Linked DNA regions of Homo sapiens: regions 2, 3 and 4 are each linked to region 1. Evidence: fine-mapped expression QTL. A gene starts in region 1. Each other region holds a variant in brackets. All regions are shown on one strand. Distances are from middle to middle. Region 1 holds the start of CRYL1 (crystallin lambda 1). Region 2 overlaps IFT88 (intraflagellar transport 88). Region 3 overlaps XPO4 (exportin 4). Region 4 overlaps CRYL1 (crystallin lambda 1).

Region 1 (6,673 bases):
CTGGGGACCTCAAAATGGGAGCCAGCGATAGAGGTAATTCAATGCCCTTCCCACTGTGACTATTGCGACATGTCTTAAAGCTTCTGAATTCATGAATCTTAATGGGTACTACAAAAGGTGAATGCAGATGAACATTTATTCTGTTACACAGTAGCAAAGCAGCAGGGGAGAAAAGTGATATAATTGCTTCAATTCTATCATTAATGTCACTTAATTTTGAATAAATTCACTTTAGATACATTTGAAAGTATCTTTCCAGCTACAGTTACTTATTTACTGGGTAAAAATTGAAGTAAAACTGTTCCTACACTCATGATCTCAGTCTACTATGGAAATTTTGCCAGAAAGAGCTATTAAGTAACTCCTGCGAAGGGCACATTTAGTGTCTAAGCTGACTCAAAAGGCAAGGAGGGCATCCTAGGGTTTGCTGTGTATGTGTACAAAAATTAGCAGGAAAATACCTAGAATAGCACTTCAAAGAAAATTCATGCCTCAGAAAGTTTCTTATAAAAAATGCACAGGCCAGGTGTAGTGGCTCACGCCTGTAATCTCAGCACTTTGGGAGGCTAGGGTGGGCGGATCAGTTGAGGCCAGGAGTTCGAGACCAGCCTGGGCAACATGGAGAAACCCTGTCTCTACTAAAAATACGAAAATTAGCCAGCAATGGTGGTTCGTGCCTGTAGTCCCAACTACTTGGGAGGCTGAGGCAGGAGAATTGCTTGAATCCAGAAGGCAGAGGTTGCAGTGAGCTGAGATGGTGCCACTGCACTTCAGCCTGAGCCTGACAGAGCAAGAATCCGTCTCAAAAAAAAAAAGTACAATCACCCCAAACAAAATTTTGGAATTAAAAAAAATGAAGGAGACTGTAGTTTATAGGATACCTTTCTTTCTTGCCTTTCTAGTTTATGGGATGTTTTTCTTGATATAAAACAACGTCCTACCAAGCCCTTCATAGGGCACATCAGTTAAAAAATAAGCAGTCTCTGTTACAAACGCTCAACTATCTGTCTATTGGGACCACGCATGGTGGATACAAATGGCAACAATACAGTTTCTATCCTTAGGGGAAAGGCCCAGAAGCAGAACTTTTCCTGGAGGAGACAGTCCCTGAGCTTGATCCTGAAAGAGTGTGCCCCCTAAAAAGCAGGACAGGAGAAAGGGCATGCCCTGCACCAGGAACATTTTGTGTTCCTATTCTAAACAAGCTCAAGGGCTACAAGCTGAATCTTGCAGTGTGTATACAAATACAGAACTCATATTTTAGCGATTTAGAAACACAGTGTTTTATAAAGGTAAGGCTAACAAAATGAAAGCCTTAGAACACTACTCCAATGCAAATTTATCTTCATGATACCCATTTCTACTTTTTTTTTTTTTTTTTTTTTTTTGAGATGGAGTCTCACTCTATCCCCCAGCTGGAGTGCAGTGGTGTGATCTTGGCTCACTGAAACCTCCGCCTCCTGAGTTCAAGCGATTCTCCTGACTCAGCCTCCTGAGTAGCTGGGATTACAGGCATGCACCACCACGCCCGGCTAATTTTTGTATTTTTAGTAGAGACGGGATCTCGCCATGTTGGCCAGACTGGTCTCGAACCCCTGACCTCAGGTGATCTGCCCTCCTAGGCCTCCCAAAGTGCTGAGATTACAGGCATGAGCCACCATGCCTGGACTTCTACTCCCATTTTTAAAAGTTATCACTACCAGATTTTCCTGCAGCCCTAGGCCCAAAAGAGTTTCTCTCATCCTCTTTCAAGCCCTCCCCATTCTGAAGGGACTTGCCCTGGATGTTTATAGGACAGCTAAGTGGCCCTAAGGAAGAGTGAACTTTGGAAAAAGATCAGCGGAAAAGAATTAAGTGGGACTGTATTCCTAGCAGGTACTTTCAAGATGAAATCTATAAACTGATAAGGAAAGCTGAAAACACAATATGCTCCTGAAATTGAAATATGTATATTTTGGTCTGTTGAAACCTAAGAATGAAACTGAACCAGGTTTTGGCAAATTAATTGACATTCCCCAAGCCCTATTTGTTAAGTGGGTGTTCCTTGGAATCACCTGTGGGGCCAGGAAAGAAATAGAGGGACGAGAAAGAAGGGTGGTAAAGAGGAAGGGAAGAAACCAGCACTGTCCCAGAGGCAGAGCTGGGTGTGTGCTGAAGTGCTGAGGGTGGGGGAAAGACAAGATTTTCACACCAGAAAACAAAGAAACAAGCAGAGGCCCCAGAGAATTATGTGGTCCTTAAAGTTTGGAAGCCTTTCTCTAATTCCTTATCAACATCCCTCAAGGAATCAGAAGTAAACTGTTAACTGAAGCTCCTCCTCAGTAGACTGAGCCACCCACAGCCAGATAACTGCACAATCAACTAAAACTTTACTTCACATGTATTAGGTGCATGCATAACACTACTCCAAGGCATGATGGACCTATACAAGGCCAAGCAAGGTGGCTCACAACTGTAACCCCAACACTTTGGGAGGCCAAAGCGCTTGCACCCAGGAGTTCAAGACCAACCAGGGCAAGATGGTGAGACCCCATCTCTACCTAAAAATTTTAAAAATCAGCCGGGTATGGTGACACATGCCTGCTGTGGGAGGATGGCTTGAGCCCGGAAGGTGGAGATCCACCATGATAGTGCCACTGCACTCCAGCCTGGGCGACAGAGCGAGACCCTATCCTATTAAAATTGTGTGTGTGTGCGCGTGCGCGCACGCATGCGTGTAAAAACTGTGTGTGTATATATATGTGTGAGTGTATATATATACACACACACATAAACTCTGGTAACTATTAATAAAATGCAAGACAGAGGTAACTACCACCACTGGTACAAAGTGCACTTTTTTTTTTTCAGACGGAGTTTCGCTCTTATTGCCCAGACTGGAGTGCAATGGCACCATCTCGGCTCACCGCAACCTCCGCCTCCCGGGTTCAAAGGATTCTCCTGCCTCAGCCTCCCGAGTAGCTGGGACTACAGGCATGTGCCACTACGCCCGGCTAATTTTGTATTTTTAGTAGAGACGGAGTTTCTCCATATTGGTCAGGCTGGTCTCGAACTCCCGACCTCAGATGATCCGCCTGCCTCGGCCTCCCAACGTGCTGGGATTACAGGGGTGAGCCACCGCGCGCGGCCCAAAGTGCACTTTTTAATATGCCTTCACTATTCAACCACGGGCACTCATGGGCCAGAAAGAACAAAGGCACAGTTAACTCCACTGCTCTGGAGAAAAGAAAGCTGACAACAAGGAATCTGATGCCTTCCTTCAGTGGGAAGGAAACACCCTGACATTGGAAGTGGTCTCCACACCGGGTTGTACACTGATGGGGGGCGGAGTCGGGGGCAGGCCAACACCTCAACAGCAGTCACCAAAAAGGTGCTTTTAACTATCAATAGCAAGTATTAACATGTTTATAGATTGCTGCTAACAGCTGGCCAAAGAAAGGTACATACAAATGCCCCTTTTTAAAAAACAAAAATAGCAAGGATTGTAACCGTAGGGGTGGGGGGCGGGGTGGGGGAAGCACACACTAAAAATCAGTTTGGGCAGAATTTAAGCTGTTAAATGGACACACTTAGCAAACTCTCTGGGCTCCATCGGCCCCCACCTCCCCTCTGGAAACATCGCCTCGCCCAGGAATTAGGACTGCGTGTATGTTCGCCTAACACCTGCTGCGGCCTCCAGCGACATCGTCGCCGACAGGACTGCGCTGGCACCCTCCCTGCTGGGCTAGTCCTGTCTCCGTCACTAAACGCCTGTGACCTTAGGTAAACTGCTTAGTCTCAGTATTCTCATTCGTAAAATGGGGATGAGAACACAGTCGTCGCAGGATCGCAGCCAGAATTCGTTTCATTCAACACGGTGCCTGGCACTTCTATGTGGACCTGCGGGCAGACGCGGCGACATTCAACAGAGTCCAGGAACCGCAGGCCCCGCGGCCTGGGCGGTCAACCTCGGAACCTCCTGCAACGCTGGCTCCCGGGAAGCAGACCCAACTCCGCGGGGCGCCTCCACCTGCCAAGCCCCTCCAGCCGCGCCTCTCCCCGAGCCCGCCAGCGCCGTAGGGGCCGCAGGGCGCAGGGCTTCGGAGGACCGGAGGCCGGGGCGGGGACAGCGACCCGGCGCCCACCCCGAGGGCCCCACGCGAGGGCACCACGTCCCCGGCGTCTCCCCGGGCTCCAGGGGCAGCAGCGCGGCTCGGAGCCCTTTACCTGCCAACGATCACCACGCAGCCGGCCGCGGAGGACGCCATGGTTGGGCCGGGGACGCGGCGCCGCGGGCGCTGGGACCAGGCGCCGGCGGAGCTGCGAGCTCTGGGCTCCGGGGAGGGCGGGTCCCGCGCCCATTGGCTGCGCGCGCGGACCGGGAGGGCGGGGAGGGCCGCTTGGTCCCTGAGTGGGGTGCGCGCCGCGGGCCCGAGACACCGGGAGACACACGGCGCGCCGACCCTCGTGGGCAGGGGCAGGACCAGCGCGGGGGCACGTCGGGGGGTGGAAAGCGGGAAGACCACGCGCTTGTGACTGTCAGCATTCACCGTGAAGTCCGTGTCTATAGGAGGGGACACGGGCAGGCTGGCACGGGCTCTAGCGCTAAAGCACCCTAGAGAAACTGTCAGAGAATGTCCCCTTTGCTAATTCGTCTCTGAAAGACGCCTGCCGCTGCCGCCAACTGCGAACTGGGCGCAGGGACTGCGACAGCAGTGAAAGAGAACACCTGATGCGTTCATCTGCGCTACGGAAGGACACGTCTGAATTCCTCCACGGAGCACACTCTGCACTCGGTTTATGTATCAGAAAAAGGAAATGCCCTCGTGCCCTGACTCCTGGCCTTCTTGGAGCCCGGAACAGACCAAGAGGAAGGGGCATCACACATTGCCTGACAGTGGTGTGCGTCCACACAGCACAAGCTGAACGGGAAATGACACAGTCATTAGACAGAGGAGACAGTACTCAAGCTGGAACCGCAGCCAACACTGAGATGATAAAAGGAAGTCTTCCTTTGTTTCCCCTGAGTCAGGAACGTGGAAAGAGAAATCTCAGGGGAGGGGTTAGGTTTTTTTGTTTTGTTTTGTTTTTTAAAGAACAGTTTCACAAATTATCGATAAATATTTGTAAAGTATTCAACCTCAAGAGAAATGAAAAGTAACACAAGGAAGATAAGTCATCTCTCACTCATCAGATTGGCTAAGTCACATGGATTGATTATATTCCCATATCCGTAATGGAGTGTTTCGGACATGCAACTTACACACAGTAGAAGGCAAGCTTAAATGTTGAGGACTTTTTGGAGGGAATGTTACAGTACATTGTTGAGACAGCCGCTAGCCTGAGCAACCGCGCCTGCTCTGGCTGAGAATACAAGGCTCCAAAGCTTCCATCTTCTGATGGAGCAGTTTCTGTAGTCAGTTACACAGGCAGCCAATATAATAATCAAGGCACCCAGGGAGTGAGCATCCTGTGACTGCTCACTACCGGAGGCTATGGGGGCAGCAGACTGGCTTGTTTGCTGCTCCCTGCAAAGTCATGCCTGAAATCCCAGCGCTTTGGGAAGCTGAGTAGTAAATAATAGCTTGAGGCCAGGAGTTCAAGACCAGCCTGGGCAACAAAGCGAGACCCCTGTCTCTACCAAAAAATTAAAAAACTTATCCAGGCTGGTGCCGCCTGTAGTCTCAGCTACTCAGTAGGCTGAGGCAGGAGGATTGCTTGAAGCCAGGAGTTTGAGACCAGCCTGTGCGAGATAGTGAGAACCCCCCCCCCCGCATCTCTAGTGTGTGTGTATATATATGTGTGTGTGTGTGTGTGTGTGTGTGTGTTTATATATTTATTTATTTATGTGTACATATATTTATAACTTTAATCCTTCTGGTACCAAACAAAAAAAATACAGATTTATTTAAATTAGCCAGGTGTGGTGGTGCATTCCTGTAGTCCCAGCTACTCAGGAGGATCTCTTGAGCCCTGGAGTTCAAGGCTGCAGTGAGCTATGATTTTGCCACTCTACTCCAGCCTGGCTAACAGAACAAGACTTTGTCTCAAAAGAAAGCAAAAGTGGCTGGACGCGGTGGCTCACGCCTGTAATCCCAGCACTTTGGAAGGCCGAGGCGGACGGATCACAAGGTCAGGAGATCGAGACCATCCTGGCTAACACGGTGAAACTCCGTCTCTACTAAAAATTAGCCAGGCGTGGTGGCAGGCGCCTGTAGTCCCAGCTACTCGGGAGGCTGAGGCAGGAGAATGGTGTGAACCCAGGAGGCAGAGCTTGCAGTGAACCAAGATCACGCCACTGCACTCCAGCCTGGGCGACAGAGCGAGACATCATCTCAAAAAAAAAAAGAAAGCAAAAAGTGCTGGGCCCTTGCTCGTTGCAAACACAGGAGTCATCTGGCCCTCTATGTAACCCTGTGGGAATTAAGGATCCAAGAACCCATATAAATATGGTGTCACTCTGGCTATTGCTTTTACTGTAATAAGATAATTTATTTTTAATCCAGGAGTCTCGTGACTTCTGTCAGCATCCAAGTGCAGAACCTCTGTTGCAATTTAGTGAAAATCTCAGACCCTTGCAGTTTCTGACATACACAAAATTTAGAATGTATGTACCCTTTGGCTTAGCAGTTCCAATTCTAGAGATCTGTTGTACAGAAATTCAAGTGGACAAGAAGTTAGACAAATTTCTTTA
Region 2 (8,208 bases), 70 kb after region 1:
TGTTTCAGAAAAAGAGCAAACTTTTTCCATGAAGGGCTAGATATTTTAGGCTTTGCAGATCATATGTTCTCTGTTGCTACTATCCAACTCTGCATTTGTAAAGCAAAAGCAGCCACAGGCAATGTGCAAAGGAATGGGGCATGGCTATGTTCCAGTAAAACTTTATTTACAAAGACCATGGGTTGTAGTTTGCTGCTCCCTGTTTTATAGTTTTATGGTTTTACCCTATACGCCCAGGAGGTACAAGGAATAAATTATGTTTGTTTATTTGCCGATAGAATGAAGAAAACTTCTATAACTTGGTTTAAACATTTAAGGCAGATATTTTTAGGAATCTTTTTAACTTAACTTTTCTGTTTACTAGTCCAAGACATCTCTGGCATCATCAATAGGAAGACCAATGACAGGGGCTATTCAGGTATCTCTATTGGATGCATGTTCATTTTGTGCCTTTCTTGTGACTTGGAATTTACTACCAAAGTTTTTTTACTTTATTATATTATTTTAAAATGTTAAAGAAGATATTACTTATATAGTGACCCAGATTCTTTAAATTGTGGGCTAAAGTCTACACTGTTGTAAATCTTTGAAGGCGAAGTCTCTTTAGATTTATTTACTCAGGTATCAAATGAATTCCCATTGGGGTGTGGACATAGAACTGATAATTGCTTATATGATGTATTCTGGGGCCCATTTTTCCTGTTACCATTTACAACAATTTCTGTGGTTTCTCTCATAGGCATGTAAGAGACCAACCAAAAGTAAGAGAGTAGCTGGCTAATAAGCTGATTAATTTTTTTTAAAACTATAGCCCAATTACATCAAAGAATTGAAATTGTAAAGGTGAGAGAGGACATGATTGATACATGAGGAGGTAGAAGTAAGGAGTAAACGTATAGTGATTGAAAATCAGCATTTTTTTAAATAGGGCTATATTAAGGTGTGTGTAATGTGCAGAACTGTACATAGGAGATAGATCTTATTTAAGAATAAATGATTCCCATTCTCTTTAAAGGATGGAGTTACTAGACCCATGACAGCAGTGAGAGCAGCTGGTTTTACCAAAGCAGCTTTGAGAGGTTTGTTACACTGTCTCTACTAATAATCTTTTTTGGATCTTTTAATCTTTTATCATTTTGTGATATAAATATTACTGTCATTTTAAATAAAATCTAACAATGCCATTGATTATAAGATGCACTGATATTTTAGGTACCATTAAGAAAGGAAAAGGATGATGAAAACCTTCTACATATCTGTTGGGGTGGTAATTAAACCATGGTGTAATTTGTCAAAATGCATTGAAATAATATGTAAAAAGTTAAATGATAATTTAAAAATAAAATTATAACAAAAATTAATGTTTGGTATGCCAATAAGGAAAATTAAAAAGCCAATAGCAGGTTATAAGACATGTGACTGATAATTTAGAGTTGATAATAGAGATAGATCACTGTGGAAGAGAAAGTAAATGCTGAGAATATCTTATTTTTGTTTTTAAGTTTAACACACGTATTATTTACATAGCTTTATGTGTGTTAAAAATCTTACCAATTTCCCAGTATATGAAATGTTTATGTAGACACAATGTTATCTCCATTTAATAAATAGATAATTGAAACCATTTAATAAAGAGGTAAATGAAATAGCTTATGCGAGGTTTTATATTTTCATATATTCTTCGATTTTGCTGAGTTACAAATTGAATATTAACTCTTGAATTGTGTCTCAGGCTCTGCATTTGACCCCCTTAGTCAGTCAAGGGGCCCTGCTTCCCCTTTGGAAGCCAAGAAAAAAGATAGGTATGTAAGTCCTTATGTTGTTGTTTGTTGTTGTTGCTGCATATTTTAAATTTTTATTTTCCAAATACACAATTTTTTTTTTTGAGATGATATCTCACTCTGTTGCCCAGGCTGGAGTGCAGTGATGCGATCTTGGCTCACTGCAACCTTCATCTCCCAGGTTCAAGCGATTCTTCTGTCTTAGCCTCCTGAGTAGCTGGGATTACAGGTGCCTGCGACTACATCCAGATAATTTTTGTATTTTTGGTAGAGATGGGGTTTTGCCATGCTGGCTAGGCTGGTCTCGAACTCCCAATCTCAAATGATCTGCCGACCTCAGCCTCCCAAAGTGTTGGCATTACAGGCGTGAGCCACCACACCAGCTCACATAATTACATAATTATGTGACTTCCATAAGAATTACATAATTATGTGAATTCCATAAGAATTACATAATTCTTAATCTTTAAAAAGTTTGTGTCAGCAGAGTAGTAAACAAAAAATCATCCCTAGTTGCCAGAACTAACAAAATTAAGAATAGCCATATGTATTCTGTGCAATTTTATTGTGATATTATATGACTTGAAGATATGGTCTAATTTTTTATCAGGGCCAGTATTGAGTCTCCTGACAGCCAAATGGGGTTGTAAATGTTGTAAGATATGATTATCTTGAGAGGACATTTCAAGGGAAAAAATTAAGAGAACACATATGAAATTAATGTGTCATATTATTGAGAAATTTAATTTTTTATAGAACAAACTTAATTTAGTGCTAGTGGCTAGACAGTAGCCAAAAAGCTATGGTATACATTTAATTATATACATCTGCTGGTATCCAAGTACCTTGATGTATACATTTTACAAATAGTAATAAAAGCTAACATTAACTGAGTCCTTGCTGTGTGCCAGGCACTTTTCCAAGTACTTTCCCTATGAAAACAGAGCTATTATTCTCACTAGTTTATAAAGAGGGGAGCTGAAGCCCAGCTATCTTAACTTTCTAAGGCTAGTAAATGACAAGGCTTAGATTCAAACCCAGTTTTTCTAGTTCCAGAGCTTGGGCTCTGGAACTAGAACTGGAATTAGTCACTATACTGTTTTGCTTCTATAGAATATATGTTTTTAAATTGTAATTCTTTTTTTTTGTTTCTTTTTTTTATTTAAATTGTAATTCTTAAACCCAGTATTTAGGCTTTCGTGTAAATTACATAATTTCCATTTTTGACTAGCAAGGAACCTCTATAGAAAATCATGTTATTTTTTATCTTAATTAATGACAGCACATTAGCTAATAAAAGCATTTTTTATTTAAATATTATGTCATTCATGGTCCTTTTGGCTGCTAATAACAGAAAACATGTTTAAAAAAAAGTAAGGACACAGGCCGGGCGTGGTGGCTCATGCCTATAATCTCAGCCTTTTGGGAGGCCAAGGTGAGAGGATCACTTGAGCCCAGGAGTTCAAGACTAGCCTGGGCAACATAGCGAGACCCCGTCTCTACAAAAAAATTAAAAAATTAGCTGGGTATGGTGGCACACACCTGTAGCTCCAGCTACTCAGAAGGCTGAGGTGGGAGGATGGCTTGAGCCCAGGAGGTGGTAGCTGCAGTGAGCTGTAATCATACCACTGCACCACAGCCTGGGTGACAGAGCGAGACCCTGTCTCAAAGAAAGACTTAAAAAAAAAAAAAAGACATATACATAATTAACAAGAAAATTTATTATCTCACATAATAGGAAGTCTGGAGGAAGGGAAGTTCTGGGGATGGTTAATTTAACTGCTCAGTAACATCATCCCTGGTCCAGCTTCTCTTTGTTTCCCTTGGCTTTCCCCAAGCGCCTGCCGATCATTATGATGCCAAGAGAGTGTTGAGAGTTCAAAATCTCCATGTAACTGATATAGTCTAGAGGCAGAATGTTCCTAGTCTTAGGTCTCTTAAAAAGCCAAGAAGATCTTTCTAGCAGCCCTGTACCTGAAGCAGATATGCCTTCATTTCTCAGTGTGGAATGCATCAAATGCTCGTGGCTGAACCAAACACTTGGCAAAGAGAATGAGATTCTCTTGACTTGCTTAGATTCTGCATGCAAAGAAGAAGGGCGGGTGGCAGGCTCTGTGTGGGTAGGTAGCCAACAGTGCCTGAATATAGATTGCATTTTTTTTGCATTTGATAGGGACAGGGTAAGTTACTTTCAGTGTCTTCATAAAGTTCTCTTACAGATTTTTAAGTTTAAAATTCTATGTTGATATTTTGAATTTAATAATAAAATCTGTAAGCAACATTTAAGACATACATTCAAGTGTTTCAGACAACTAGAAAATAGAATTCTATACTTCATGTAACCTTCATAAAACTACCATCTATTATGCTTACTGCTCAGTTAGAATTTTACAGATCTTTATAAACTAATAAACTTTGTAGTCTTAGTCCCAGGTTTCCTCAAAGAATATAATTTTATAGAAAAAGTTATGCTGCTCAATTTATTTCTATATACTTTTATAAAATCCATTTGTAGAGAATTAAGAGAACTACTATCTATTCTGATATAGCAGTAGTAAAATTTTATTTAGGCATTGATGT[G/A]TATTCAGAGTATTGTTGTATTTTGCCAAAAGAAAGTGGTAGCAAAACAACATTACTGTTATTTTGAAAGGTAACTGATTTGGGAATACTTGATTTGCTATTAATAGAGCCAGGATTTTTAAACTTCTTCACCTCATTAGAAACTTTCTCTATGGCCAGGCATGGTGGTGCACGCCTATAGTGTCAACTACTCAGGAGGCTGAGGCAGAAAGATCGCTTAAGCCCAAGAGTTCAAGCCGTAGTGCATTATGATTGTGCCTGTAAATAGCCACTGCACTCTAGCCTGGGCAACATAGCAAGAACCTGTCGTTTATTTTTATTTTTTTTTATTTTTTTGAGGCAGAGTCTTGCTCTGTCACCCAGGCTGGAGTATGGAGTGCAGTGGCGCAATATCACTCACTGCAACCTCTGTCTCCCAGGTTCAAGCAATATTCTCCTGCCTCAGCCTCCCAAGTAGCTGGGATTATAGGTGCCTGCCCCAACACCTGGCTAATTTTTGTATTTTTAGTAGAGGCAGGGTTTCACCATGTTGGCCATGCTGGTCTCAAACTCCTGACCTCAAGTGATCTACCTGCCTCAGCCTCCCAAAGTGCTGGGATTACAGGCAGGAGCCACCACGCCTGGCCATGTTACCTACCTTGACTGTTGTTATTATTTTACTATTATGAATAATTACATGATGTAGTTGTTAAAAACAGTACTACATTTGCTCTTTAATACCATGTATACATTTGTCTTATCTATAACTATTCTTGAAGTTTAAATGCACATTGTTCAATGTTGAAAGTAAATTAGGCTGGGTGTTGTGGCTCACACCTGTAATCCCAGCACTTTGGGAGGCTGAGGAGGGAGGATCGCTTGAGGCCTGGAGTTTAAGACCAGCCTCCCTGGGCAAGATGAGGAGACTCTGTCACTACAAAAAACAAAAACAAAATTATTCATGTATGGTGGCATGCACCTGTAGTCCTAGCTACTTGAGAGGCTGAGGTGGGAGGAGATGACCTGAGCCCAGGAGTCAAGACTACAGGCTGCAGTGAGCTATGATTGTGCCACTGCACTCCGTCCTGGGCAACCAAGTAAGACCTTGTCTGTAAAATAAAATAAAATAAAATAAAATAAAATAAATTTTAGTATAGATTTTTAGAGGTTGAATGATTTAAATTGTACCTGCTTTTGTCTTTAATAGCCCAGAGGAAAAAATAAAGCAATTAGAGAAGGAAGTAAATGAGTTGGTAGAAGAAAGCTGTATTGCCAATAGTTGTGGAGACTTAAAATTGGTAAGTTCATAAACAAGATTCAAAATTATGAAGCATTTATAGATGTATGTCTGCTTTTATACATACACCGTATGTATAGACAAATATTTTTGTTTGCCGTTGACTGGTCTTAGGATAAGAAGCAATTATTTTGAGAACCAGGAATTGTAACTCAGTTTCATAAATTTGAATGTCAGAATAATTGGCTGGTTTTGTAATTTTTGACATTGGCCTTTTCAGTAGGGAAAAAAATTCTAATGTATTTGTATACTTAACTTGGCAGCCTGGTGGACTATTGGATTAGATAGCAATATGCTGCTGAAAGGTGTAGCTACCATGAGCCACACACAGTACTAAGGGCTGTTTTCTTCTTGAAGTCTCTCTACTATCAAATATTTTTTCCTAAGTAAACTAAAAAATTAGTTTGCTTTTTGGGAATCTAACTTGGCTTTTTAAATATCAATCTTTACTTTTAATTTGCTTTGTTCATGTTACTTTGATTGTCATATCATATAAATATAATTTCTGTGAGTTATTGGATTAATGAATACCATTAGAAAGAAATGTTCACTTTAAAAAGCTGCTTTTACTACTCATAGAACTGGGGCTTTTTTTGTCATTCTAAAAAACAAAAAGTCCCTTTCCAAGGGAAGTTTCTGGTAAGAGCACACAGGGGTGTCTTGAGGAATCTGAGGATAGAAAATGAATTCATCCAACCTTCATGTAGATATTTCTCAAATGCATAAAAGTTGATGAACACTCAAAGGAAGTTACAAGGTATAAATCTGATTTCAGGCCTTAGAAAAGGCAAAAGATGCAGGAAGAAAAGAGAGAGTCCTGGTGAGACAGCGAGAACAAGTTACAACTCCAGAAAATATCAATTTGGATTTAACTTACTCAGTAAGTATTGAAATATAACACAATTTTTAAATAAAATTTTGACTAGGGTTAATGGGTTCCAGAGTCTTTTTTCTTTTATTTTTAAAATCTTACTGGTCTTCAGGTGCTCACAATTAGATTAATAATAATCTTTAGTTCATAAAACACTCTTGTCTTTGTTTTGTGCAAAGAGCTCTTTTCTTTAGTTATTTAACTAGTTATTTTAGGCTGGGTGCAGTGACTCACGCCTGTAATCCTAACACCTTGGGAGGTCAAGGTGGGAGGATTACTGAGTGAGCTCAGAAGTTTGCGACCAGCCTGGGCAACATAGTGAGACCTCGTCTCTATTTATTAAAAAATATGTAGCCGGGTGCCGTGGCTCACGCCTGTAATCCCAGCACTTTGGGAGGCCGAGGCGGGCAGATCACAAGGTCAGGAAATCGAGACCATCCTGGCTAACATGGTGAAACCCCATCTCTACTAAAAATACAAAAAATTAGCCGGGTGTGGTGGCGGGCGCCTGTAGTCCCAGCTACTTGGGAGGCTGGAGCAGGAGAATGGCGTGAACCCGGGAGGCGGAGCTTGCGGCGAGCCAAGATCTTGCCACCACACTCCAGAGCCTGGGCGACAGAGCGAGACTCCGTCTCAAAAAAAAAATATATATATATATATTTTTTTTTTGATAACTTGGTAAGTACCTGCAAACCTACCATGCAATGGCTCTATTTCTTGAAGAGCACTAATTTTAATGCTCTATCAAGGTGGTTATTTTGATGAGATTGTAATGTAGACTTTTCGGTCAGTGATTTTCAAGAACTTTAGGCATATAAAATAATGTTCTATGAGGGTAGTGGGGAAAAAAAACTAATGCCTCTAATTTCTAGCAACATTTATTTAATTCTGAAAAGACACCTCCATAATGTTTGCACTTCTGTTTAAAAGGGTGTATTTTCAGTGGGTAAAGGTTTCATATGCTAAACACATAGGAAAAAAAGGGCGTTTGAAATTTTGAAGTGTTAGATGCTTACTGTTTATAGCTGATACTCTACGATTCCATGAAATCTTTCAGGGATAATTTATGATGATCATTTTTTACCTTTAGGAACATAATTTACTATAAATTAATTACTTAAATTGTAATTTAGTATATAGAGCTTACTATACAGATTCTTCTGATAGACTTTAAGGTTTAAGATATTTCCACGTTTAATTTATATTTAGTTCACGATCTTGCTTATTTCTTTGATCACCAGCAGCATTAATGATACACATTTATTCTTTGTAGGTCCTCCAGAGATTAATAGATGGCAAATACTACTAAATTAAATAGAATACATAGAAAATTAAGGTGAAATTTAGAGGACAGGTCTTCTTTTCTTAATGTTCATTTGTAATGCAAGATAATTCTTTTGTTTACTTAATTTCATAATTGGCTGAGTATCTTGATATAAGTAGCTAACTTTGTTATAGGATTTTAATCTCTAGAAAGATTATAGGTGAAAGGGGCCTAAAGTGGTCTTATGTGTCTTTTCTATAATATTTTCTTCCTTAGGTTCTTTTCAATTTGGCCAGTCAGTATTCAGTTAATGAAATGTATGCCGAAGCACTTAACACTTATCAAGTTATAGTCAAAAATAAGATGTTTAGCAATGCAGGTAAGTGTACATAATCAGTTTTTCCAATAGATGTAATTCTTTCGTAGTGTTAATTTA
Region 3 (6,239 bases), 290 kb after region 1:
ATCATATTTTATGCCTGCTAGTTTGGCAGTAAATGTTGGTGAGAACATGGATCATTGAGAACTCACATACACGTAATACACTGGTCCAATCACTTTCGGAAAAATTTGACACTACTATCTTCTAAAAGTGAACATTTACATACTCTCTGATCAAAAAATTCCACTCCTAGGTTTATACTTTAGGAGAGCTCTCAGTCAGGCATGGTGGCTCATGCCTGTAATCCCAGCACTTTGGAAGGCTGAAATAGGTGGATCACCTGAAATCAGGAGTTCAAGACTAGCCTGGCCAACATGGCGAAACTCCGTCTCTACTAAAAATACAAAAATTAGCCAGGCGTGGTGGAACATGCCTGTAGTTCCACCTACTCAGGAGACTGAGGCAGAAGAATCGCTTAAACCCGGGAGGCAGAAGTTGCTGTGAGCCAATATTACGCCACTGCACTTCAGCTTGGGTGACAGAGCAAGACGCTGTCTCAAAAAAAAAAAAAAAAAATCTATTGAACGCTAAGAGCCAGGCACTGGAATATGGAGATGAATAAGATACTTTCTTTCCATAGAAACATCTGTGGCCTGTTTATATACTTAACAAAGCATGTGCTTTACAGCCATCATTTGTTAAGTCTTAACAGTTTATCTTGCCAAAATAAACAGACTGGTAACATATCACAAGAGGAATTTAGGAATAGCATCCTCTGACTCACCCAGTCTCCAAAAAAAAAAAAAAAAAAGCAGGATATTTTCTAAGACCTATCTTGGTTGTTTTTTAGGTACATATCTAACACATGTTATCGTGGTTTAATTATTCATATACATAAAAGTATAACTAAAAAGTAAAAGTCTTATATGCCTTTCTATTATTAAAAAAAGTTTTCAATAATCCCTCCTATTAACACTCTGATATTAGAACAGAAGATCAGAGGTAGACTGCAAGAGCCTCAACTCATTGGATGGCAATTTACAGTAAGACTATGGACTTCTAAACAGCCTTCTGGTTTCTTTTGGAGATAATATAACTCATCGAGCAAAGTGTGAGAAATATGGTTGTTGACAATTGGCAACTAAATCTTTCAGTCTAATCACAGAAAACTGAAACCTAACCTAGCGCTTTTTCATAATACCCTGGCCCTGCTCCATGGCCACTCTGGCCAAAACCCAGCAGCCAAGGCAGCAGCACGTGCACAGAGATGACTAAGGAGACCAAGCTAGACACTATGTGCTCATGCCCTTGGTATTGTCAGGCCTGCTGCCAGAGAGGCTTTGGAGAGGGGCTTAGAGCTTACGAGACTACTTGACCCCACTTTACTCCATCTGGAAATGCAGGGTGGAGAAGGTAATCAAATTATGATATCAGCACTTATCTCTCAATGCCCATAATTACCTTGGAAGTATATAGAGCAATAAATTTGCAACCCTTTAGTCATAGAAAAAAATCTTTTACGTTTTGGTAATTATGTTGAATACATAATTCCAAAATAGTGGTTACTTTTATTTATGAAAATGCTGTCAAATGAAGCTTTGAAAAGAAAACTTTCAATATATGAAATCTGTCCCCTTTTTGACATCAAATTGAATTTCAGAGATTAAAATCTAACAACACTACACGATTCCAACTACACGACATTCTAGAAAAGGCAAAACTATGGAGACAGGCGAAAGATCAGTGGTTGCCAGAGGTTGTGAGGGGCAGGGAAGGATAAATAGGCAGAACACAGAGGATTTTCAGCACAGTGAAACTACTCTGTATGATACCTTAATGATGGACATCACACACTGGTCCAAACCCATAGAATGTACAATGCCAAGAGTGAACCCTATGTACACTATGGACTCTGGATGGCGATGATGTGTCAATGTCGTTTCATCAGCTGTAACAATGTACCACTCTCGTGTGGGATGTTGATGGGTGAGGGTGGGGAGGCTGCATGTTTGAGGGGGTTTGTATTTTCACCCAATTTTTGCTGTGGACTCAGAACTGCTCTAAAATATAAAAAGTCTTTATCTATATTTATATTTATCTATATAAATCTAATATCAGGTACTGTAAAAATATGAGCTAAATCTCATGCTAAGGTAGTTAGTTTGTTTTCCTGTGAACAGCAACTAATCATCATGACAACTCCAAATCCTTTCAATGAAATTGGAAAGCTTTTTCTGTTGATCATCAAGATTATCTTCATATGTAAACATAAATAACGTGTTAGATATGTGATTCACAGACAAAAAATGCAGTGAGATGAATATGGGCAATTCATTTTCACAGAAAATCTTATGTCTACAGAATATCCTTCAAAAAGTTCCTTTTATATTATTCTTTACAACAGTTTGGAAGTGAAAACAGCTTCAACTATCAGAGATTGTAGAAGCTGCAAAAAAGTGCCCAAAACACTGGCTGGGAAGTTCACCAGCAGCATCTGCTTATAGACTCACTTGGCAGAAATAAGTAATGTACCAAACACTTGCATGCAATAACAGGAGAAGGAAAAAACCACAGGTTAAAAAACAACAGAAAAAGGCTCCATCAATATACTATACTATTTCTTAATCTGCGTGGTTGATACATAATCGTTCATTTCATTATTCTTTATATTTTTATAACATAAAACTAGTACTTTATATGAATGAAACATTTCACAATAACTTTAAAATTTACAGGCATCAGCACAATCCCCACGTCTAACAACAAATCACAAATA[A/G]TATTTGTGCTGCACAGTGTAAAACATTAAGAAGGACATATGAACGATTAAAGACTGAAAGAGCTATACTATTAGTTTATGCTGTTATTCATCTGCTATTGGTATGTAGATTCTTTCCTAGCGAAGTATCATTTAAGGCAAATATGGGAACAATATAGTGACACAAATGTCACAAAAAAAACTTCATGAACTCTCCACTTAAAAATGTAGGAATTTAGAAGTCTTTGAATGTCAAATGAAAAATAAATCCACGTCTAGTTATTTTTATTTTTTCTAGCTAGTTCTTAAAATACAGAATTAATTTAACTTCAGAATACCTATGCAGCTGACAGTATTCCTGGTTTCTGGAATCCCCCAAGAGAAATGGATTTAGTAGACAAGTATTGCAGCTGTTAGAAAAATCTTACAGACAGATCACTTAAATATGATATGGAACAATAGTTATAACAGTAAGTAAGCTTTATTCTAAATCCACTGCACTAAAGGTGCAAGAATTCTGTGAAACTTAACACTGGTTCTGCACTAGGATTGGTAAAGCAGATTTAAACAATCAGAGCTGACTCATACAAGTCATGAAATATTACATGGTTATCATCCAATTAGAATTAAAACATTAAAACAATTCTTAAAACACTTCTTTTAATACGAATCTGTATTTAAGGTAAAATAGTAACTAGTTTTCTTCCAAATATCCTGGTAGAGCTAAAACTATTGTTATTATTTCTAAAAAGTATACTTTTAATGTGCAAGCTTTAAAAAATACTCATGGATTTAATTCTATCTTTTAAGCAGAGGAAATGAATGTGCTTGATGGGTGGGGGGCGCTGGACAGCCAGCTTGCTCTCTCCAGTATCATCAGTTTATTCTTTTATAGCTACAAGAACCGTTTGGTGGGGATGTTGGCAAGGATCTTCAAACAATCCATCCTTTCATGGGTGAAGGTGCAAGGTAGACTACACAGTTACACTGTACGGACACAACCATCCAGAGAATAAGTATTGTTTTCCCTCTTATCACTGAGATATCCCAAAATTTATGCTCCCCACTTCTCAATCTGTAATTTGGCTTCAATTTATGGCTTCCTTTTTGTCACATAACCTCACTACAAAGTAATTACCCAACAAGCCAGAGAAATTAAATTCTGAATCAAGAATGCTGACCTCTAAATACACTCACTCACTTGACAAATTGCAAATTTATTTTATTGCATTACATTCTATAATCAACTTCCTAAAAACTTTATCAAGTACCTTTTTCTTTACTACCTTGTCCTGCTGGTCTTGAGATTAGGCTACAAATATACTAAAACTAGATGTAAGGTTCTTCCTTTATAAATTGTTATTTACCACGATTGCCCTTATACACAACACATACATCAAAATGCATATACAAAATACCTCAATGCTATGAAGGCTGCTCTGTTCCTGTAGCAACATACTGCACAGCTTCACCTACTTGGCTGAACTCAAAATGGTTAATTATAAAAGAAACCAAGAAACAAACTAGAGTATACAGTTCTAGTCATATTCTCCTTGAATTTCACTGAAACAATTCAAATGCATCTACTATTATAAATCTTTTATAAAACAGCTGTTGTATTAATATGAACAATTATTGATAGAATTTTAATCTTTTTTTGAGACAAAGCCTTGCTGTATTACCCAGGCTGGAGTGCAGTGGCATGATCTCAGCTCACTGCAACCTCTGCCTCCCGGGTTCAAGTAATTCTCCTGTCTCAGCCTCCTCAGTAGCTGGGATTACAGGAGTGTGCCACCATGCCTGGCTAATTTTTGTATTTTTAGTAGAGACGGAGCTTCGATGTGTTGGCCAGGCTGGTCTCCTCACCCGACCTCAGGTGATCTGCCTACCTCAGCTTCCCAAGGTACGGCCGTGAGCCACCAAGCCCAGCAGGATTTTAATCTTTAAGGCAATACTTTTTCATCTCCACATTCATTCTTACCTCTTCAGTTCAGCAATAGATAATAATTTGATTTCTGGGTATAATGAAAAAATTCTTATCTCCAAAAAGTCTCAAATAATATCAAGAAACTTCTGCAGCCACAGAGAAACTTGGCTGAATACCAGAATTGCTCTTTGTGAACACAGACTCTCAGTTAACTGCAAGTCAGAGTACTCATAAATATGTCTCTTCACTCACATGCTAAAGCCACCCAGCAAGGTGGCTTTATGACATGGGTTTCAAAAACACACACTGGTATCAAGAATGCTTCTTCCTATGAAGATGCTCTTCTTCCCTTGCTACACAACGTTACCACCATCAAAGACATGAATTGCTATTAAAAAAGATGATAATCTGTATATATTCCTAAACAAACACAGCTCTGAAAAAAGTATTCTCACAGTAAAACAAAGTCTTACATGTGGAACCTGTTTTCCTACTGGAAAAAGAAGCTTTCAATATTTCACAAAATTACAATTATAAAAATCATTTAAAAAATAATTTTAAAAAATTAGAATTATAATTAGTTTGCACCAAACAAAACTCAACAGTTGTTCTTATGTGGTAAGAGTGCACACAGGTTTTCAATAAAAGCTATTATTTTAAAGGCTCATTTTAAAAAATTATTCTACATGTTATTGCTTGTAATAAATTATTGTACACTATACACGTCCCCCTCCCCCTCCCCTTTGTTTTTTTGTTGAGATGGAGTTTCGTTCTTGTCACCCAGGCTGGAGTGCAGTGGTGTGATCTTGGGTCACTGCAACCTCCGCCTCTCGGGTTCAAGAGATCCTCCTGCTTCAGCCTCCCAAGTAGCTGGGATTACAGGCGCCCGCCACCATGCCCGGCTAATTTTTTATATTTTTAAGTAGAGAAGGGGTTTTGCCATGTTTGGCAGGCTGGTCTCGAACTCCTGACCTCAGGCAATCCGCCTGCCTCAGTCTCCCAAAGTACTGGGATTACAGGCGTGAGCCACTGAGCCCGGCCTATACAGGTACTTTTCATGCAGTTAATCCACGTCATAAAGCAGTAGAAGGAATTCATACCCTGACTTTACCAATAAGCTAACATGCTCCAAAAAAAAGTGAAGCAGCTTGCTTGAACTCTTGCTCTTCATGACTGCCTGGCCTGTAACTGTGCAGTCTCCCTCAAAAGTTCATCATCTTTTCATCCCATGTTAACTCCCAAACTCATATCTTTAATATGCCTCAATTTTTCAAATTTTACTTAAAAGATCATGTCTTGGCCAGGCGCGGTGGCTCACACCTGTAATCCTAGCACTTTGGGAGGCTGGGGTGGGTGGACTGCGAGGTCAGGAGTTTGAGACCAGCCTGGCCAACATGGTGAAACCCCGTCTCTACTAAAAATACAAAAATTAGCCGGGCGTGATGGCGCATGCCTGTAATCCCAGCTACTCGGGAGGCTGATGCAGAAGAATCGCTTGAACCTGTGAGGCAGAGGTTGCAGTGAGCCAAGACCGTGCCATCGCAGTCCAGCCTGGGCGACAGAGCGAGACTCCATCTCAAAAAAAAAAAGATCATGTCTTTATATACTTTTCCATCTCAGGACAACTACGTATTATGTAC
Region 4 (7,438 bases), 40 kb before region 1:
ACAGATTAAGAGAAAAACTTGCCTGTCTCTTGAATGTATAACATTTTTCATTACTTGCTCATATTATATCTTTGAAGCTATACATACTACAAAAAAAAAGCCAAGCAAATAAATAAAAATACAGCTTCACAGAAATAAGACCTCGTGCCCAGTTCTGTAAGCACACTATTTGAATAAAGCAAGAGCAAGCCATCAGAAAAGTAAGGGCTGTGGCAGGAAGCTAGTAGAACATTAGGACAGAATGTTTTCACACTTCGCAAGTGAAAACTGAAGGCTCGTGCTTCCAGATGATCTCGTGAGTGTGTGAGGTGGGCTTGCCCCAGTCCATCCAGAGTCCCACGCACCTTAGTAATGTCATACCACTCAGCAACAAATTACCAATCAACACAACCACACAAGCCACGTCAAATTCATTTTACTCTGTGAAAGAAACCAAACTCAAAAGGCTGCATCATGTATGATTCCATTTTACATAACATTCTGGAGAAGGCAAAACTATAGGGACAAAGAACAGATCAGTGGTGGGCAAGGCCTGGGGAACGGTGGGAGGAAATTAGCTGCAAAGGGAAGGAGAGGCTCTATGCTCTGAACCCCAGCTGTGACGCTGATTTCATACGTGACTGTACGCATCTGTCAGACACATAGCACTGAACCCTGAAACGAGTGAATTTTCTTGTATGGAAATTATATCTTTGTAAACCTGATTTTACAGTTTTTAAAGAAAAAAACACGTATGGCCATGCGTGGTGGCTCACTCCTGTAATTCCAGCACTTTGGGAGGCCGAAGCGGGCAGATCACCTGAGGTCAGGAGTTCAAGACCAGCCTGGCCAACATGATGAAACCCCGTCTCTACTAAAAATACAAAACTTAGCCCGGCATGGTGGTGGGCGCCTATAATCCCAGCTACTTGGGAGGCTGAGGTAGGAGAATTGCTTTAACCCGGGAAGCAGAGGTTGCAGTGAATCAAGATCGCACCACTGCACTCCAGCCTGGGTGACAAAGGTGCGACTCCATCTCGAAAGGAAAAAGAAAAAACACATACAACAGAAAAAGTGTAACTCCAGTTTCCTCGCACATTCCCGAATATTCTCAGGGCTGGCCATCCCATGTGTCCAATGCTGCCTGAACCCCCCACCCCCACACCCATCTCTACCAAAAGAAGAAATATTCTGAGTCTCAGTGAACCAAGACTGAAAGTCCAACAATCCTTTAAGAAAACAAATAAATTTCCAAAAGAACGCTACTTCCTGTAATTACTGACAGTGTCTGAAGGTCCTTTTCAAAATGATTAGCATTCTCTCCATTTTAAAGATATAGTTGAGATGCAAATTCTGATCATCTACATAGACAATATCCATTTAACTTCTCGATTTCAGCTATTGCAGATTGTTCTGACTTTGTGTAAGGAAACCCCATTTAAACTTCGTAACTCTATAAATCATTCCCATGGCTCCCACCAGCTACTGTGATCTCCGGTTTTAAGTTCCAGAGATTAGATAAGGCCTCGACATAGTGGCTAATGAGCTTTAATGTGCTTTAAAAGTCAAGGCTTGAGACCAGCTTTTCAGAGTAAACTTATTTTTCCAGAACAGTAGGTTTTCTTGCCAGGCAAGATTTGATTTCAAAATTGCACTAAGTTCTAGAAATTCAGGTTTCTTTCTTGCGTGCTCCCGGATTTCAGCAGAGTATTAGGAAACGTCCTGACCCAGGCTCCCCGCCCTCTAGGGTTGGGTAGAAAACAATCCACTGGGGAAAACCACACTCCCATTACTGGGCTTCGCCCCCTGGGGCTGGGCAGATCCGACAGTGGGATTATTTTTAGTTGAAGCATTGTGGCAAGCAGTCTGTGTGTGTGTGTGTGTGCGCGCGTGTGTGTGCGCACGCACACACGCGTCTCCTCAAACTCTGCCTCCTGCTTGTGAACAATTCCCTAAATAGTAATAATTTTCTTTTTATAAGAAAACCACAGCAACATATTTTATAAGAAAACTGTAGCAACATAGATGGCATTGGAGATCATTATATTAAGCGAAGTAAGCCAGGCACAGAAAGGCGAAGATCCCATGTTCTCACTCATGTAGGGGAGCTAAAGCAGTGGGTCTCATGGAGGTAGAGAGTAGAATGGTGGACACCCGCAGCCGGCAGTTACCAGGAAGGGGAAGGAGCGATGAAGAGAAGCTGGTTAATGAGTACAAAATACAGTTCGCTAGAAGGAGCAAGGTCTAGCATTCAATAATACAGTAGGGAAATTAGAGTTAATAATGTTATATATTTCAAAATAGAAGATTTATAGTGTTCCCAACACAATAAAAGATAAACGTGTGAGGTTCTGGATATCCTAATACACCGGGATTTTACCATGACACACTGAACACACAAATCAATCACACATGAATCCCAAATATGTACAATTAAGATACAGCAAGTAATTTTTTATTTATTATTATTTTTTTAAGACGGAGTCTCACTCTGTCGCGCAGGCTGGAGGGCAGTGGTGCGATCTCGGCTCACTGCAAGCTCCGCCTCCTGGGTTCACGCCATCTGGACTGACCATATCATCAACATGAAGTCAGCTTTCTCACTTGGACTGTAACGTACCACATCATCATTCTAAAAGAGCTCTGTACAGTCTTTCTTTTATTTTGGTTTGTCTGTTTGTTTTTGAGACAGGGTCTCACTCTATCACCCAGGCTGGAGTACAGTGGCGGGATCTCAGCTTACTGCAACCTCCACCTCCTGGGCTCAAGTGATCCTCCCACCTCAGCCTCCCAAGCAGCTGGGACCACAGGCATGCACCACCATGCCATGCTAATTTTTTGTATTTTTGGTAGAGACGGGGTTTCACCATGTTGCTCAGGTTGGTCTCGAACTCCTGAGCTCAAGTAATCCACCCGCTGTGGCCTCCCCATGTTCTGGGATCGCAGGCATGAGCCACCACATCCAGCCCTCTTCTCGCTCTGTCGCCAGGCTGGAGTGCAGTGGCGCGATCTTGGCTCACTGCAACCTCCACCTCGCAGGTTCAAGTGATTCCCCTGCCTCAGCCTCCCGGGTAGCTGGGACTACAGGTGCCCACCACCACACCTGGCTAATTTTTTGTATTTTTAGTAGAGACAGCATTTCACCGTGTTAGCCAGGATGGTCTCCATCTCCTGACATCGTGATCTGCCCGCCTTGGCCTCCCAAAGTGCTGGGATTACAGGCGTGAGCCACCGCGCCTGGCCAAAATACAGCAATTAATTTTTTTTAAAAAAAGAAAACTGTCTCCAAGTAGCCTAGATTGATTTTTCTACACTGAGAACCTTCCCTTGTATAAATCAGAAAAAGGAGCTGTGAGAGCTGCTAAGAGGGTGCCACTGGCAAAAAGTCTGTGGACCCTGAGATGAGGCAGCACCACAGGGCGGGTGAGTGGTTGCCAGCAGATGAGTGGTTGCAGCCCGGCAGAGGCTGCGGACTTTGGGAACCTCAGCTTTAATGGAATTCTTAGACGGAAGCTTCTTTCAGGTTTGCCATCAAATGGTGACTATCACAATTTTTTAAGTCTAAAAATTATATGTCTCACTTGAGGTCAGGAGTTCGAGACCAGCCTGGCCAACATAGTGAAACCCTGTTTCTACTAAAAATACAAAAATCAGCTGGGTGTAGTGGCAGATGCATGTAATCCCAGCTAATTGGGAGGCTGAGGCACGATAATCGCTTGAACCCAGGAGGCAGAGGTTGCAGTGAGCCAAGATTGTGCCACTTCTCTCTGATACAGCCCCGAGCACATCGTACAGCAGGAAATGTTCTAAGTTTTAAATAAAAACCATGATGCAAAATTCTATTTACAGTATAATCTCAAATGTATTAGAAAGAGAGAAAATAAACAGGAGAAGTGGAAACATATAAATACACAAAAATCTTCAGTATTTTTGGAATAATGAACCTAAACAGGATTGTCCTAAACTTTCTTTACAACACAGAGATGTTTAATTAGGTAAGATACATGTTTAACATTACATTGTGTTAGAAACACTAATGTACTTTAACAAACATGTGGGGCAGCATTAGGTAGGTTTCACTCTGGGGGTTTCATTTACTTGTTTGTTTGGTAAACCTGAGACACTAATATGCACTAGGTTTTGTTGTTGTTGTTGTTGTTGTTGAGACAAGGTCTCACTCTGTCGCCCAGGCTGGAGTGCAGTGGCTCCATCTCGGCTCACTGCAACCTTTACCTCCTGGGTTCAAGTGATTCTCATGCCTCAGCCTCTCAAGTAGCTGGAATTACAGGCATACACCACCACGCCTGGCTAATGTTTTGTATTTTTAGTAGAGATGGGGTTTCACCATGTTGCCCAAGCTGGTCTTGAACTACTGAGCTCAGGCAGTCTGCCCACATTGGCCTCCCAAAGTGCTGGGATTACAGGTGTGGACCACCACGCCCAGCCTATGCACTAGTTTTAAAATTCAGAGGATTAAATTTGCTTTACATCATATAAAGAAATGTGTAGGCTGGGCGCAATGGTTCATGCCTGTAATCCCAGGACTTTGGGAGGTGGAGGCAGGTGGATCACTTGAGGTCAGGAGTTAGAGAGCAGCCGGGCCAACATGGTGAAACCCCATCTCTATTAAAAAATGTACACAAAAAATTAGCCATGTGTGGTGGCACATGCCTGTAATCCCAGCTACTCAGGAGGCTGAGGCATGAGAATCCCTTGAGCCCAGGAGGTGGAGGTTGCAGGGAGCTGAGATCACGCCACTGCACTCCAGCCTGGACAACAGAGCCAGACTCCATCTCAAAGAAAAAAGAAAGATAGAAAAGAAAAGAAAAGAAAAGAAATGTGTAAACATGCCCAAGAAAATCAGTTAACTGGCAAAAATGAACTGCTGATTCTTTTTTCTTACTCATCTTTCCTTCTGATTCATTTCATTCTCCTACTAAATACCTTCCTTGCAGGATTCTAATCAGGACTTAGATTGAAATCCAAACCCTTTAGTTCTTTATTTTTTTTATAATTATTTTTTCTTCAGGTCTCA[T/C]AATATTTTGTTTGTTTGTTTGTTTTTTGAGATGGAGTCTTACTCCAGTTGCCCAGGCTGGAGTGCAGTGGCCTGATCTCGGCCCACTGCAACCTCCACCTCCCAGACTCAGGAAATCCTCCCACCTCAGCCTCCCAAGTAGTTGGGACCACAGGCACATGCCACCACACCCGGCTAAGTTTTTGTATTTTCAGTAGAGATGAGGTCTCACCATATTGGCCAGGCTGGTCTTGAACTCCTGAGCTCGAGCAATCCGCCACCCTCAGCCTCCCAAGAGTGCTGGGATTACAGGCGTGAGCCACCACACCCAGCCTTCATCTTTATTTCTTTAAAGAAACACATAAATGGTGCTTCTCTTCGTGTACTCCTCTAAGCACTGTGTATTACTCAATTCACCTAAGTAATTCTTCAGGTTGGCATTCGTAGCATGGCGACTTGGTTTCCACCTTGGACCAGCCTTTCCTACCTTTCCAATGGGTCTGTAACGTGGCCTTAGAAACATCCTCAAAGGGACTTCTCATCTCATTCATCTCTTCCTCCCACACAATCCTCCCACCCCCACCCCAAAATCCACTTGTCAAAAGTCAAGACAAGCTCTAATCCTACCTGCATTAAACCTTCCCGAAGCCTCCCGGTCAGAACTATTCCTACCCACTCCTTTCTCTGGTACTGGAGGTACAACAATTTCTGAAGAATATAAACTCTCATAGGAATTAAACCTACTAGTTTACATCATCTTTCTCTAGTTTCCTCTCCTCATCCGGCTTGGCTCTGTGTTCTACATAATAGATATGGCTCAACATGTCATGCCTTGTAAATACACTCATTTAATCTATAAAATAAAGATAGACTGTAGTTAAAGAGCAGTTTTCACTAGTGCCAACCATGTACAGAACGCCATATACTGCCCCATGTCATTCTTTATTACCAAAATTGTTATAAATGGCCACATTATAAAATAATTACCATTTCCTGAGCATTTTCTGTGTGCCAAGTACTATGTAAGTGCTTTACATGCCTTCTAAATTCACATATTCCCCCCAAATTACTCTTTAACAGAAAAACTTGCCTTATTACCCAAGTCTATTATAATGTTCTCATATTATGGAGGGTTCACCACTTTATAAAAAACAATATACTCTTTGAGGGAGACACATTAACCAGAACTAATTCAGTTAGGGTAGTTTTGGATGTTTATAGAAATCATATGATAAACTATCAAAAAAATGGGATGGGGAGACAAAGAAATTTAACATGGATAGATGAATTATTCCTAGGGGATGACTTTACAATTGTTACTGCTAGGAAATTTATAAAGTAGCTATAGAAAGATTCTTTAAAAGAAAAAAAAAAGCACAGCAAGTTGCCATGCTATGGAATCACAAGTGTATTATTACAAAAGGAAAAAACATCTAAATGTTTGAGAATTAGTCTTTGAGGCTGGGGATAAAATTTGCAGTGCCAGCATTGTAGATGGGTTCAAAAAGCTCTGCATAGCAAACATCTCCAAGAGGCAAAGGTAACATGGTCTGGGAACTCTGTTCAGAGAGACTCAAAAAGTGATTGTAATGAAGACAAACATGCTGAAGTTGGAGATATCAGCCCAGAGTTTGAACAAAAGCATTCTGTGAAATGTGAAAGTAGAAATATTATAATAATAGATCACTTATTAATATTTCAATCACATTATATAACTAAATACTTTCCTTAAAAACTAAACTCACGGCTGGGAACAGTGGTTTATGCCTATAATCCAAGCTACTTGGGAGGCTGAGGCTCAAGAATCGCTTGAACCCAGGAGGCGGAGGTTGCAATGAGCCAAGATCACACTACTGAACTCCAGCCTGGGTGACAGAGCGAGACTCTATCTCAAAAAAAAACAAAAAACAAAAAGCAAAAAAAACTTAACTCATGCAGTTTACCGTGGCTCACGCCTGTAATCCCAGCACTTCGAGAGGCCAAGGCCAGCGGATCACTTGAGGTCAGGAGTTTGAGACCAGCCTGGCTAACATGGTGAAACCCTGTCTCTACTAAAACTGCAAAAATTAGCTGGGTGTGGTGGTGCACACTTGTAATCCCAGCCACTCCACAGGCTGAGACAGGAGAATCGCTTGAATCCAGGAAGTGGAGGCTGCAATGAGCCGAGATCACACCACTGCACTCCAGCCTGGGCCAACAGAGTGACTCTGTCTCAAAAAAATAAAAAATAAAACTAAATTCATGTGAAAGAAGCTTCTCTGCCAAGACCAGGCCTGGAGAGCATCTGTGCTCTTCAGAAGCAACTCTGCCAAGACCAGGCCTGGAGAACATCTGTGCTCTTCAGAAGCAACTCCTCTTATAGCACCTGCAACTACGGGTAGAAACAGGTGGCACTGGGAACTCATTAGGAGCCCTCAGGTCTCTTTAAAGTCCCTTCAACTTCAT

Evidence for each region. PIP is the estimated chance that this variant, and not a neighbour inherited with it, causes the effect. A credible set is the group of variants that fine-mapping cannot tell apart.
Region 2: its variant is the best candidate, but not a certain one, in a credible set for the expression of CRYL1 in whole blood (INTERVAL, PIP 0.86).
Region 3: its variant is the best candidate, but not a certain one, in a credible set for the expression of CRYL1 in visceral fat (GTEx, PIP 0.85).
Region 4: its variant is the best candidate, but not a certain one, in a credible set for the expression of CRYL1 in whole blood (TOPMed, PIP 0.78).

The regions. Positions count from the first base shown.
Region 1 is chr13:20,521,548-20,528,220 of GRCh38, forward strand. CRYL1 (crystallin lambda 1) reads right to left here and starts at 4,310. Exons shown (of 8, transcript NM_015974.3): 1 at 4,207-4,310. The coding sequence starts at 4,247. RefSeq lists a silencer at 3,986-4,535 and an enhancer at 4,716-4,825.
Region 2 is chr13:20,590,603-20,598,810 of GRCh38, forward strand. IFT88 (intraflagellar transport 88) reads left to right here. Exons shown (of 26, transcript NM_006531.5): 5 at 365-418; 6 at 1,016-1,079; 7 at 1,733-1,802; 8 at 5,548-5,638; 9 at 6,413-6,517; 10 at 8,049-8,151. Among named protein-coding and RNA genes, the nearest start is that of IFT88, 28 kb to the left of the region's middle. The variant G/A (reference allele first, on the strand shown) is at 4,362.
Region 3 is chr13:20,813,483-20,819,721 of GRCh38, forward strand. The region is part of intron 9 of XPO4 (exportin 4); the gene reads right to left. Among named protein-coding and RNA genes, the nearest start is that of EEF1AKMT1, 43 kb to the left of the region's middle. The variant A/G (reference allele first, on the strand shown) is at 2,694.
Region 4 is chr13:20,480,894-20,488,331 of GRCh38, forward strand. All of the region lies in intron 3 of CRYL1 (crystallin lambda 1), which reads right to left. Among named protein-coding and RNA genes, the nearest start is that of CRYL1, 41 kb to the right of the region's middle. The variant T/C (reference allele first, on the strand shown) is at 5,015.